Linked DNA regions of Homo sapiens: region 2 is linked to region 1. Evidence: fine-mapped expression QTL. Tissue or cell type: whole blood. Region 1 holds a variant in brackets; the other region holds the start of a gene. All regions are shown on one strand. Distances are from middle to middle.

Evidence for each region. PIP is the estimated chance that this variant, and not a neighbour inherited with it, causes the effect.
Region 2: SPRY2 starts here. The variant in region 1 is fine-mapped to the expression of SPRY2 in whole blood (INTERVAL, PIP above 0.99).

Annotation. Positions count from the first base shown.
Region 1 is chr13:80,030,574-80,033,261 of GRCh38, reverse strand. No RefSeq gene overlaps it. Among named protein-coding and RNA genes, the nearest start is that of LINC01080, 21 kb to the right of the region's middle. The variant T/G (reference allele first, on the strand shown) is at 1,611.
Region 2 is chr13:80,339,549-80,342,236 of GRCh38, reverse strand. SPRY2 (sprouty RTK signaling antagonist 2) reads left to right here and starts at 1,111. Exons shown (of 2, transcript NM_005842.4): 1 at 1,111-1,615. RefSeq lists silencers at 694-743, 974-1,163.

The sequences.
Region 1 (2,688 bases):
TGAAGATTAGTATTGCAGAGTAGCCATTTAAAAATGTACATAGGCCAGGCACAGTGGCTCACACCTGTAATCCCAGCATGTTGGGAGGCCAATGCGGGCGGATCACTTGAGGTCAGTAGTTTGAGACCAGCCTGGCCAACATGGTGAAACCTCATCTCTACTAAAAATACAAAAATTAGCTGGGCATGGTGGCGCATGCCTGTAATACCAGCTACTCAGGAGGCTGAGGCAGGAGAATCACTTGAACCCAGGAGGTGGAGGCTGCAGTGAGCTGAGATCAAGCTGCTGCACTCCATCCTGGGTGACAGAGTGAGACCTTGTCTCAAAAAAGAAAAAAAAATGTACATATGTTTTTTAAAAATAAAATTTATTTTATTTCAAATATAAAAGAGTAATGATTGAATATAGAATTTTCTGAAAATTTGGAAAATTTGACTTAAAAACATTTACTCAGTCTCACTAGAAAGACAACAAATATTAATATTTTATTGCATTTTTAGTCTTTTAAGCATCTTCTATATAATTTTGATACATAAATTTTACTATAATTTTTTACAGTGCTTCTTTTACTAAATATTATGTTTTTCCATTATTAGAAATAACCATTAGTATATTTAATGTCTACATGCATAGACTGAATGTACCACAGTTTACTTGAATTTCTTTTTATGGCCAAGTGCTTTGTTTCCGCCTTTTCTCCATATTCTAAATAGCACTAAAATGAGCACATTTGTACACAAAAGTTTCCCTGTATTTAACATGATTTTCTTTGAATAGATTCTTGGATTTAAAATTACCTGTCTCAGACTTGGAAATTTAAGACCCCTTCTACACACTGTGAAATTATTTTCCAAAGAAGCTATAACGTTTTTCTTTCCTGCTAACAAAACACTATCTCCAGTATTGAATATCCTAAATTAATTTTTAATCTCTGCCAATTGGATAAGTAAAAATTTAGATCTTGTTTTAATGTGCATTTTGTTGTTTACTAATAAATTTTTTTCATGTTGGCTGATGAAATATATTTTCTCTTATATGCATTTGACTTTCAATTCTGTTCATTTTCAATTGAGATATTTACATTTATTTATGAAAAATATGAACACGCATTTCTGAGAATTAATAAAATAAAATAAAACCTAGAAACATAAAACATCTTAGCTGGTCTGGGAGAACCAAGTGTTATAGGTATAGAATAACTTATGCTTTCCAATTTTCACCTTTTGGAGCCCAGACAGTTCAGTATTGTGTTTGAGAAAGATAATTCCAAAGTAAAACAATCATAATATTAGGATAAATAACACCATTTAACCTAAATCTTTCCCAGGGTAAGTGCAACATCAAAGATGTGGCCCGTTTAAAGGCAATTGCCCTCAAATGGAAGATGTATGGTCAACATCAAAAAGTTTGGGTTCTTTCCTCAAGTGATCAACCTGCAAATGGGAAGGGGGCAACATGTTTAGTGGCAAACATGCTAAATAACTGCTTCACCATTTCCCAAGTATTTACAGACCACTGGAATGGACACATCTGCCAGTTCATAGTTAAGTAAAGCAAGTTTGACTCAAAGAAAGCAAGTTTGGTGATCTTTGTAGACTTTCAAATTTCCT[T/G]CATCTTGGAAAAAGTGATTGACAAAGGAAGTGTCAAAAAGGTCAATGAACTACCTGGATATAAACTGCATCTGGAAACCCCTTTTTTCAAGATTTATCCATTGGAGGAAGTGCTAGGTATTGGTTAACGGGACAGTTGATCTCCTAGGCTGTTGACGAAGGCCATAAATGTATGCTTATTATTCTTATTCTGTCAACATCTTTTGACATCTCTGTATGACTAATCATAGATCAGCCACAGAGAAATATAAAGTAAATGACTCCCTTTCCCTAAAGTTCAGAAACTCAAGATGCCTAGAAATTGAATTTCTTGACAGTTTAGTCCTTTTGCTGTTCTTTCTCAAGAAGTGTGGGATAATTGATGCTAAACAGACCTATAAATATTTGGTGTGTTTGTGTGTGTGTGTGTGTGTGTGTGTGTAAAATAAGACGCCATAGTGATGTTCTATATGACACTCTAATTTATATTAGAAAAAAATAACATATTTTAGAAAAAAGCAATTTTATCACGCACAAATTTAATGTCCATGTTTCTGTATCTATTTTGTTTGTATCAGTGGTATAATATTTCCCTTAGAAAGGTGAAACCTGTGCCTAATAAGAAGAAAACAATTACTTCATAAAAAATACAATGCCAGAACTCTGCTAACATTCAACTATCTATGTGTAGTATAGAAGTGTTTGTGTGTAGCTATCCTAACATTTCTATCCCCTTTTCCAGCATGACAAGCAGGAGGTAAACAAAAATTTAAAATAGAAACTCTGACTTCTCGTTTGGCCATCCCTTCTGCCAGCTCTCCTGTTTACTAGTAGTTTCTGGTCTCCAGAGAATCTGACCAGCATTGGTTTCCAAAAGCGTATACCTTTAAGGCAGCAGTTCTTCCCCAAAGGCAACTTTGCCCCCAGGGGCATTTGGCAAGATCTGGAAACAATTTTTTATGGTCTATGGGGTTGTGACTGGCACCTAGTGGGCAGAGGCCAGGAATGCTGCTTAACATCGTACAGTACACAGGACAGCCCACAACAACAGCATATCCAGCCCAAAATGTCAATAGTGATGAAGCTGAAAAACCCAGTG
Region 2 (2,688 bases), 310 kb before region 1:
AACCCTTCCCTCCCCCCCGCCCCCCCATTTCGGAAGCCCATGCTGTCGCCCTGAGTAATCTTGTTCCTGTCTATTAATGAATTAAGTTAAAAGGCTTAGACTGTAGACTTTAGCTACTGCATGAAGCAAAATAGTAAGGAAGCTCTTCAAAAAGCCTCCATTCATAGATAACCCCCCTTAAAAATGAAATTCTAATAAACGGAAAAACTACAAGTCGACACAATCAAAAGCAAATCCCAGCAAGAGCAGAAGGTACTTGAAACTCGAATCTGCATTCCGTTCCTCCCGTACAAGGCTCGGAGGTGGGGGAGGCGGTTTGTGCTGGTGCCTGGTGTATAATCGGGTTAATCCAGTAGACAAAGAATAAACCAATAGCCCTCCCACCTCACTTCCCGCTCCCCTTCCCCTCCCCCTTCTTCTCCCCCCGCCCCAGCCCCCGTCACCCGCTCCGCAAAGGGGAACAGAAAAGGGGAGAGGTAGACTTGAAATGGATTCTGGATAAAGTCTTAAAACCTGCAACTTGTTTTTCATGCTAACACTGCGTGGCCCAGATTAGTCTTAAATGTTCATTCCCCTTTCCTGGTGGCAAGGAGAAAGTTCCCTAAGTCAGCTCGAGCCTCTGGCTCGTCCTCATTGCCTCTGGGCAAACCTTAAGGTCAGTGTTTCCTTGAAACTAGATAAACTGACCCTGCAGTGCCCAGCCCGGCCCCGCGGGCGCCCCGCGTGACGGCGCTCGGGCGGCAGGACCGGCCTGGGGACGCGCGGGGCGGCGCGGTTGCCCTTTTGAATGCCTCCTGCGGCTCGGAGCGCTGGCGGGCGCTGGAGTGTGAGTGAATGTAGCCCCGCGGAGCCAATGAGCTGGGACCGGATGCGATATATCCTCTGGGACAACAACTGCTCTGTTCCGCCTCGGATCCACATGACGCCATTTACTGCTGCCGCGGCCGCCGCAGAGCTCCCTGCCTCCTCCGGAAAGGCGAGGGCGCAGGCCAACGGCGAGCCCCCCCCGGGCGGGCCCCAGACCCTCCTCCTCCTCCTCCTCCTCCTCTTCCTCCTCCTCCGCACCCACCGCCCCCGCCTCGGCCTCGCTGCCTCGCCTCCACAACGCCCAGTCTGCACCGCCGAGAGCTGCGCGCCGCAGCGCTAGCGGAGGAGAGGGGCCGGCGGAGCGCGCAGCGCCCAGGCCCCCGCGCCCGCCCGGCCCGGCCCGGCCCGCGCCCCCGCGCCGCCTCCGCTACGACGCGGCCCCGGCCGCACCACTTGGCGATCTGGCTTTAGGTTCTCCGTAAGGCCGTTTTCTTTTCCCATTCGCTCATCTGCCAGGAAAAGGGACTTGCCGTTGGCGCTTCGGCCTCTTGTTCATTGAGAAAAAAGAGGAAATACTCCGCGTGCGCTTGTAGAAGGGGAGTCGTCTCCAGCTCCGAACCCCGGAGTGTTCATCAGCGGGGAATCTGGCTCCGAATTCTCTTTTTTTCTCCCGCCGATTGCTCGGAAGTTGGTCTAAAGCAGAGGTTGGAAAGAAAGGAAAAAAGTTTGCATCGAGACTGGATTTATTTGCACATCGCAGAAAGAAGAGAATCCAAGGGAGAGGGGTTGGTGCAAAGCCGCGATCACGGTGAGGCACGTTTGGCTCTTCCCCTCCTGGCGCCGCGGCCGGCGCGTTGTGGGCAACATGGAGTAGGTGCAGCCGGACCAGGAGTTGGGTCCGTCTCTCCCCGAGCCTCCCTTTCTCAAATCCCGCAGGGTCTTCGCGAGGATCCGGGGCGCTCCCCGCGGACCTGCCTCGCCCGGGGCTTGGGCTCGGCCTGCCTCTGCGGGGACTTCTGTATGCACCCCGTGCAGTGTCCCCGACAGGCGACCCCGCGCGCCCGCGCTCTAGGGGGTTGGGACGGAGGACAGCTAGCCTGAAGTCTGCTCCCAGCCGTGCACTGGCCGCGAATTCGGCGCTGAGAGCGGGAGAGGGAGAGAAAAACACTTTGTATTTTCCAGGTTGCCTTTGCAGGCGCCCGCATTTCTAACCTGTTCTTCCTCTTGGTGGAAGGCAAAGTCCAGGGAGAGGCTGTCCCTAGGCGGGGCGCTGGTGGGGCTGGGGGACACAGGTTGCCCGCCTCGGGGGCAGGAGACTTCCAGGGTGAGAAAAAGGCAGGGTGCCGGGTGGAGGGAGTGCCCGCCTCTGCTCCGTGTGGACAGTCTAGCCCGGAGCGGGTGGGAGCGTCGCCCTGCCTGGCGCCGGGTCTCTGCGGTTCGGAAGTGCAGCTCTCTCTCTTCCGTTCTTCGTGGTCAGCCTGGGTCACACTTATTTTATTTTTGGAAGCTCGGGCTGACCCAGCGCAGGAAGAAAGTCATCAAGCGGTCGCGATCATTTTCCATTACCTGAAAGTAGGTGGCAAAATAGGCAATTTTTTATTTCCTTTTGTTGTTGTTGTTGCTGTGTTTTAATTTGGATTCTTGTGTGTTTTTTACAAAGCAGTTTCTGTGTCCGTTTGCCCCACCCTAGAGCTGAAGTTCTTTTCCCCTAATCCTCAGTCTGATCACACACTGTTCTTAATGGGGGTTTCAAAGCACTTTCAAAGGGGAGGGGGGACTGGGAAAGAGAAGAGGGGCGGAGGTAGGGAGTCCAGCTTTGAAGAAGGAGGCCAGGGATCGGATCGGCAGAAATCACTTAAAAAATAAAAACAAAAAAGCCCC